Linked DNA regions of Homo sapiens. The protein of the gene in region 2 purifies or fractionates together with the protein of the main gene of each other region. This does not show direct contact. Each region holds a gene or a part of one and is shown on either strand. Other genes may lie near its edges.

Evidence for each region. Proteins that work in one complex are often made in the same cells at the same time.
Region 1: the proteins of SULT2B1 (region 2) and PKP2 purify together in Homo sapiens (co-immunoprecipitation; one large-scale study listed by IntAct). This does not show direct contact.

What each region holds. Positions count from the first base shown.
Region 1 is NC_000012.12:32,795,778-32,799,277, forward strand, and holds part of PKP2 (plakophilin-2), read right to left. Parts: intron 522-3,500; coding exon 332-521; intron 1-331. UniProt on the Homo sapiens protein: A component of desmosome cell-cell junctions which are required for positive regulation of cellular adhesion.
Region 2 is NC_000019.10:48,558,672-48,562,171, reverse strand, and holds part of SULT2B1 (sulfotransferase 2B1), read right to left. Parts: intron 1-3,500. UniProt on the Homo sapiens protein: Sulfotransferase that utilizes 3'-phospho-5'-adenylyl sulfate (PAPS) as sulfonate donor to catalyze the sulfate conjugation. Responsible for the sulfation of cholesterol.

The DNA of each region.
Region 1 (3,500 bases), on a different chromosome or scaffold from region 2:
TACATTCTGCTGTTATTAAATCACAGCTGTGGCTTTGGGAAACTAATTCATTAGGCCAATACAATGCTGGAATGCACAACCAAGAGAAGTTCTGGAGTCTGACCCTCTGTTGATACTTTAGAAGAGAAGGGACAAGCATGTGGTGTGGTGGATTCAGTTCTTTCCTTGGCTGATCACTGAGGGCTGACCAGATGATCTGGCCTGGCTTTACATCCTGTTTGCTGCCATGTTGCACATGATGGTCATGACCGCACATTCACAACCGGATTATTTACACACAGGCTGGTGAGGGGAAAGGGAGGCAGCTGACGGGCAGAACTGAAGGACTTACGCATCGCCTGCACTAATGGCCATAATTTTCTGGATGCCCCCGGTGTTTAGAAGGTCGCGTGCATTCTGGTAACTGTTTTGGATTATGTTGTTCAATGTGTAACAGGCAGAGGCTGTAGTTTCAATGAGAAGGTCAGTACTCGGGACTGTGTCAGGAATGATGGAAACCAAATCAGGGAGAGTTTCTTTGGCTACAAAATGAAAAAAAAAACAAAACACTTGATTAAAAAGATTGTTTCTTAATCCCAAGATCCCAATATATTTTGGGTGAAGAACATTCTTTTTCTTTTTTTGAGACGGAATCTTGCTCTGTTGCCCAGGCTGGAGTGCAGTGGCACCATCTTGGCTCACTGCAAGCTCTGCCTCCCGGGTTCACGCCATTCTCTTGCCTCAGCCTCCCGAGTAGTTGGGACTACAGGCACCCGCCACCACGCCTGGCTAATTTTTTTATTTTTTTATTTTTTTTTATTTTCAGTAGAGACGGAGTTTCACCGTGTTAGCCAGGATGGTCTCGATCTCCTGACCTCGTGATCCGCCAGCCTCGGCCTCCCAAAGTGCTGGGATTACAGGCGTGAGACACTGCGCCCGGCCAAGAACTTTCTTAAAAAGAAACACAGCTGGTTAACAACACATGGAAAGATGTAATTTCCCTAATAACAAATTTTTAAAAATATTTGAAAAGAGGATACTCTGTGCTCAGTATATTGAAAATCTTTTCAGAGTGTAATTTGGCAGAAATGTCAAGAACTTAAAACATTTTCATCTTCTTCAATTCGGTAATTCCATGTCTAGGAATACATCTTAAAAATATCACTTTGAAAATGAAAAAAGCTTTCTACAGAGATCTTTATGACAGTACTACATGTAACTGAAAAACTAAAAAGCCTGAATATCCTTATAATAGGACTATGATTAACTAAAACACACCTGCAAAGACTATTATTCATCACAAAACCTATCTATGAAGCATGTATAATAAAAAGAAAATAATTATGTTAATAGTGTATGTGAAAAATCAGTATATTTATATAAATAATACATAATATTATTGGCCAGGTTCGGTGGCTCACACCTGTAATCCCAGCACTTTGGGAGGCTGAGGTGGGTGGATCACTTAAGGTCAGGAGTTCAGGACCAGCCTGGCCAACATGGTGAAACCCTGTCTCTATTAAAAATACAAAAATTAGCTGGGCGTAGTGGCACATGCCTGTGCCTGTAGTCCCTGCTACTCAGGAGGCTGAGGCACAAGAATTGCTTGAGCTTGGGAGGCAGAAGTGGCAGTGGGCAGAGATCACGCCACTATTCTCCAGCCTGGGCAACAGAGAGAGACCCTGTCTCAAAAAAAAAAAAAAAAAGAATACATACTATTACCAAAAAACCCACGTAAGAAACCTGAGGAAAAATGTTAATAGGAGCTGTTTTTCTACAACAATATTAATAGTGAACTAAAATCTTTTTTTTTTTTTGAAACAGAGTCTTGCTCTGTCACCCAGGCTGGAGTGCAGTGGCGCGATCTCGGCTCTCTGCAAGCTCCGCCTCCCGGGTTCATGCCATTCTCCTGCCTCAGCCTCCCGAGTAGCTGGGATTACAGGTGCCCGCCACCACGCCGGGCTAATTTTTTTGTATTTTTAGTAGAGACGGGGTTTCACCTTGTTAGCCAGGATGATCTTGATCTCCTGATCTTGTGATCCGCCCGCCTGGGCCTCCCAAAGTGCTGGGATTAGAAGCGTGAGCTACCGCGCCTGGCCAAGCTAAAATCATTTTTAAGGCCAGGCAAGGTAGCTCATGTCTGTAATCCCAGCACTTTAGAAGGCCGAGACAGGAGGATCACTTGAGCCCAGGAGTTTGAGACCAGTCTGGAAAATATAATGAGACCCCGTCTCTATTTTAAAAAGTAAAATTAAATAGTAAATAAATAATAAACGAATAATCTTTGCTTCCCAAGGTTTTTCCAATACATAAGTAATACTACTCTTGTTTTTTTTTTTTTTTTGGAGATGGAGTTTCGCTCTTGTTGCCCAGGCTGGAGTGCAATGGCACGATCTCATCTCACTGCAACCTCCGCCTCCCAGGTTCAAGCAATTCTCCTGCCTCAGCCTCCCGAGTAGCTAGGATTACAGGTACGCACCACCATGCCCGGCTAATTTTTTGTATATTTTTTTTTTCAGTAGAGATGGGGTTTCTCCATGTTGAGGCTGGTCTCGAACTCCTGACCTCAGGTGATCTGCCCGCCTCAGCCTCCCAAACTGCTGGGATTACAGGCGTGAGCCACTGCGCCTGGCCTACTATTTTAAAAAGAGAAATAAACTATTTTAAATGTACTTTTCTACTATGTATATAACTTCTTGGTTATAAGTTTTGAGTTTGGCTTTTTTTTTTTGTACTAACAAGAAAGGTATTAAAAAAATAGACATGCCACTTTCACAATTAGGCTATAGAAAATAAAAAAGATACATAGACCAATGGAATAGAATAGAAAACCCAGAAATAAAGCAAAATACTTACAGCCAACTGATCTTTGACAAAGCAAACAAAAACATTAAGTGGGGAAAGGCCACCCTATTCAACATATTCAACAAATGATGCTGGGATAATTGGCAAGCCACATGTAAAAGAATAAAGCTGGATCCTCATCTCTCACTTTATACAAAAATCAACTCAAGATGGATCAAAGATTAAATCTGAGACCTGAAACCATAAAAATTCTAGAAGATAACACTGGAAAAACTCTTCTAGACATTGGCTTAGGCAAAGAGTTCATGACCAAGAACCCAAAAGCAAATGCAACAAAACCAAAAATAAGTAAATGGGATCCAATTAAACTAAAAAGCTTCTGCACAGCAAAATAAATAATCAGCAGAGTAAACAGACACCCCACAGAGTGGGAGAAAATATTCACAAACTGCATTCGACAAAGGACTAATATCCAGAATCTACAAGGATCTCAAAAAAGCAAGAAAAAAGCCAAATAATTCCATCAAAAAGTGGGCTAAGGACATGAATAGACAATTCTCAAAAGAAGATATACAAATGGCATAAGAAAAATTTTTTGATACGCCTCATACATATGAAAAAATGCTCAACATCACTAATTATCATGGAAATGCAAATTAAAAGCACAATGAGATACCACCTTACTCCTGCAAGAATGACCATAATTTAAAAATCAA
Region 2 (3,500 bases):
CAGGTGATCCGCCCGCCTCAGCCTCCCAAAGTGTTGGGATTACAGGCATAAGCCACCACACCTGACCTAATTTTTGTATTTTTAGTAGAGACAGGGTTTCGCCATGTTGGTCAGGCTGATCTCAAAACTCCTGATCTCAAGTGATCCTCCTGCCTTGGCCTCCCAAAGTTCTGGGATTGCAGGCGTGAGCAATGAGCCCGGCTAATTATTGTGTTTTTAGTAGACATGGGGTTTTTGCCATGTTGACCAGGCTGGTCTTGAACTCCCGACCTCAGGTGATCCACCTGCCTCAGCCTCCCAAAGTGCTGTGATTACAGGCATGAGCCACTGCACCCAGCCAAGGCCCATTTTGGAGAAGAGGGGAGTGGGGCTCTGGGATGTAGAGCATCTCACCCACATCTGCCTGATGGGGAACACACGTTAGGTTCGAGGTCCCTGGCTCTGTCCCTTGAAGCCTGACAGTCTCACCGCAGGCCCTGCCCATCCGAGTCCCACTGTAGCTGGGCTGCCAGTGTTCCGTTCTCACTGTCCAGTTTGGCTTGTTCCCTGAATGTCGCATGCTCCACTACACCGTGGAACCGCACCCTGCACGACGCCTGTCGCCTGGGGCTCTTCACTTTTTTTCTCTCCTCCTTTCTCTCAAACACCTCCTCTCTCTCTCCCTTCCAGCATACCTTTATTATTTATTTATTTTATCTTAATTAATTTATTTATTTTATCTATCTATTTATTTATTTATTTTGAGACAGTGTTTCACTCTTGTTGCCCAGGCTGGAGTGCAATGGCACGATCTCGGCTCACTGCAACCTCTGCCTCCCGGGTTCAAGCGAGTCTCCTGCCTCAGCCTCGCAGAGTAGCTGGGATTACAGGCATGTGCCACCACGACCAGCTACTCTTCTATTTTTAGTAGGACGGGGTTTCTCCATGTTGGTCAGGCTGGTCTGGAACTCCCCACCTCAGGTGATCCGCCTGTCTCGGCCTCCCAAAATGCTGGGATTACAGGCATGAGCCACCACACCGGGCCCGAATTTATTTTTTTGAGACAAGATCTTGCTCTGTCTCCCAGGCTGGAGTGCAGTGGTGCGATCTCAGCCCCACAGCAACCTCCGTCTCCTGGGTTCAAACAATCCTCCTGCCTCAGCCTCCCGAGTAGCTGGGATTACGGGCGCCCACCACCACACCTGGCTAATTTTTATTTTTTTTATTTTTGAGACGGAGTTTTGCTCTTGTTGCCCAGGCTGGAGTGCAATGGCAGGATCTTAGCTCACTGCAGCCTCTGCCTCCCGGGTTCAAATGATAGGCCCACCTCGGCCTCCCAAAGTGCTGGGATTACAGATGTGAGCCACCACGGCTGTCCTAATTTCTGTATATTTACTAGAGATGGGGTTTCACCATGTTGGCCAGGCTGGTCTCGAACTCCTGACCTCAAGGGATCCACACGTCTCGGCTTCCCAAAGTGCTGGGATTATAGGCATGAGCCACCACGCCCAGCCTCATTGACAGTTTTTGAAATTGACTATATGTGGAAATGATATTTCAGATAGATTAGATATGTGATTAAAATTAATTTCACTTGTTTCTTTTGTTTTTTTAAAAAGGTGGCTACGAGAAAATGTTTTCCTATGGGCTCACGGTATATATCTATGGAGGGTGGCCAGGGTCATGGAAACCATAAGGGTGACAAGTCCCCCCGAGAAGAAATGGCCACTGAGGGGCAGCCTCTGACTGCAGTTCCAAGCCCCTGTTGGATTCCTTTCTCTGGCATGAGGGTTATGAGTGGGGCCTCAGTTTTCCCATCTGTAAAATGGGCATTGTAACACTGGGACCACACAGGGCTGTTGTGAAGACTCAGTGAGCTCATCCCCACACAGCCTTCAGCACAGGGCCTGGCTCAGGGCAGATGCTCAGGAAGCTCATCATTATTATCATTCCTCACCCATCCCCTCCCTTGCTAGCATTCGAGTTTCTGGCTCAGCAGCGGTCTCAGAACTGGGGAAGGAGGAAAGAGAGAAACAGCACAAATGCTGAGTCAGCTGCGAGCCCAGGTCAGGCCCTTCCCCGGTCATTGCCCGTTTCACAGACGCTCAACCCTGAGGGCAGTCCTTTCTACCAGGAGGGTCCCAGCTCCTGAGCCATAGGGGCGGCATTCGAACCCAGGACTGCCTTCCTGTGGGCATTCTTCTTTTCTTTTTAATTTTTTTTTTTTTTTTTTAAAGAGAGATGAGGGTTTGCTATGTTGCCCAGGCTGGTCTTGAACTCCTGGCCTCAAGCAATCCTCCTGCCTTGCCCTCCCAAAGTGTTGGGATTACAGGCGTGAGCTGTGGCACCTGGCCCCTGCAGGCTTTCTTGCCTGCGGTGTCACGGTCCCCACTTTCCCAGATCCTTGGGGCTCTGGTCCCCACGTAAGTAACTGGCCACACCTCTCTTAGGGCCTCCACTCCAGGCCTCCGGGCAAGGCGAGGGTCTCCCTTCTCAGCCTGGCATTTATTCCATGTCATGGGTGACCCACTGGGTCCCACAGTTCCTCCTCCAGACCCTCTGGGTGGCAAACTGGGCTGCTTAGTTCTTTCCAAATGGGTCCTGAACTCAGCTGGCCAGCATGGCGAAACCCTGTCTTTATCAAAAATACAAAAATTAGCTAGGCATGGTGGCACATGCCTGTAATCCCAGCTACTTGGGAAGCTGAGGCAGGAGAATCGCTTGAACCCAGGAGGCGGAGGTTGCAGTGAGCTAAAATCACGCCACTGCTCTCCAGCCTGGGCGACAGAGCAAGACTCTGTCTCCAAAACAAAACAAAACAAAACAAAACAAAACAAAACAAAAAACAAAACCAAATGGGTCCTGAACTCTGAACATCACCACTTCCAACCTTTCCTCTGCCAGTCCGTACACAGGCCCACCAGGCACAACTGCCTCCCCCCACCCCAAAGAGCGAGTGGAAAGGAAAACGCATCCTGTCCCTCACTCTTCAAGGCTGAGTCCCTCGTCAGGGGCTGGGTGGAGAAGGAGGGAACCGTGAGCATCTTTTTCCACTTCTCCCCAAGTCCCCGCATCCGCTAGTGCTGGCCCCGAAGCCCCTCTCCCTAGTCTGCCTGCCCAAATCTCACCCAGCGGGGAGGCAATGCCTTATTATTTCTTAATTGTTTGAAACCCCTTGATCAGCCCGTCTCAGAAAAAGCAGCTTCAGGCCAGTCGCGGTGGCTCACACCTGTAATCCCAGCACTTTGGGAGGACGAGGCGGGTGGATCATCCGAGGTCAGGAGTTTGAGACAAGCCTGACCTATATGGTGAAACCCTGTCTCAACTAAAAATACAAAAATTTAGCCAGGCGTGGTGGCGCACGCCTGTAGTCCCAGCTACTCAGGAGGCTGAGGCAGGAGAATCGCTTGAACCCCGGAGGCGGCTGTTGCAGTCAGCCGAGATGGTGCCACTGCACTCCAGCCTGGGCAACCAGAGTGAAACTCTGTCTCAAAAAAAAAAAAAAAAAAAAAAGAAAAGAA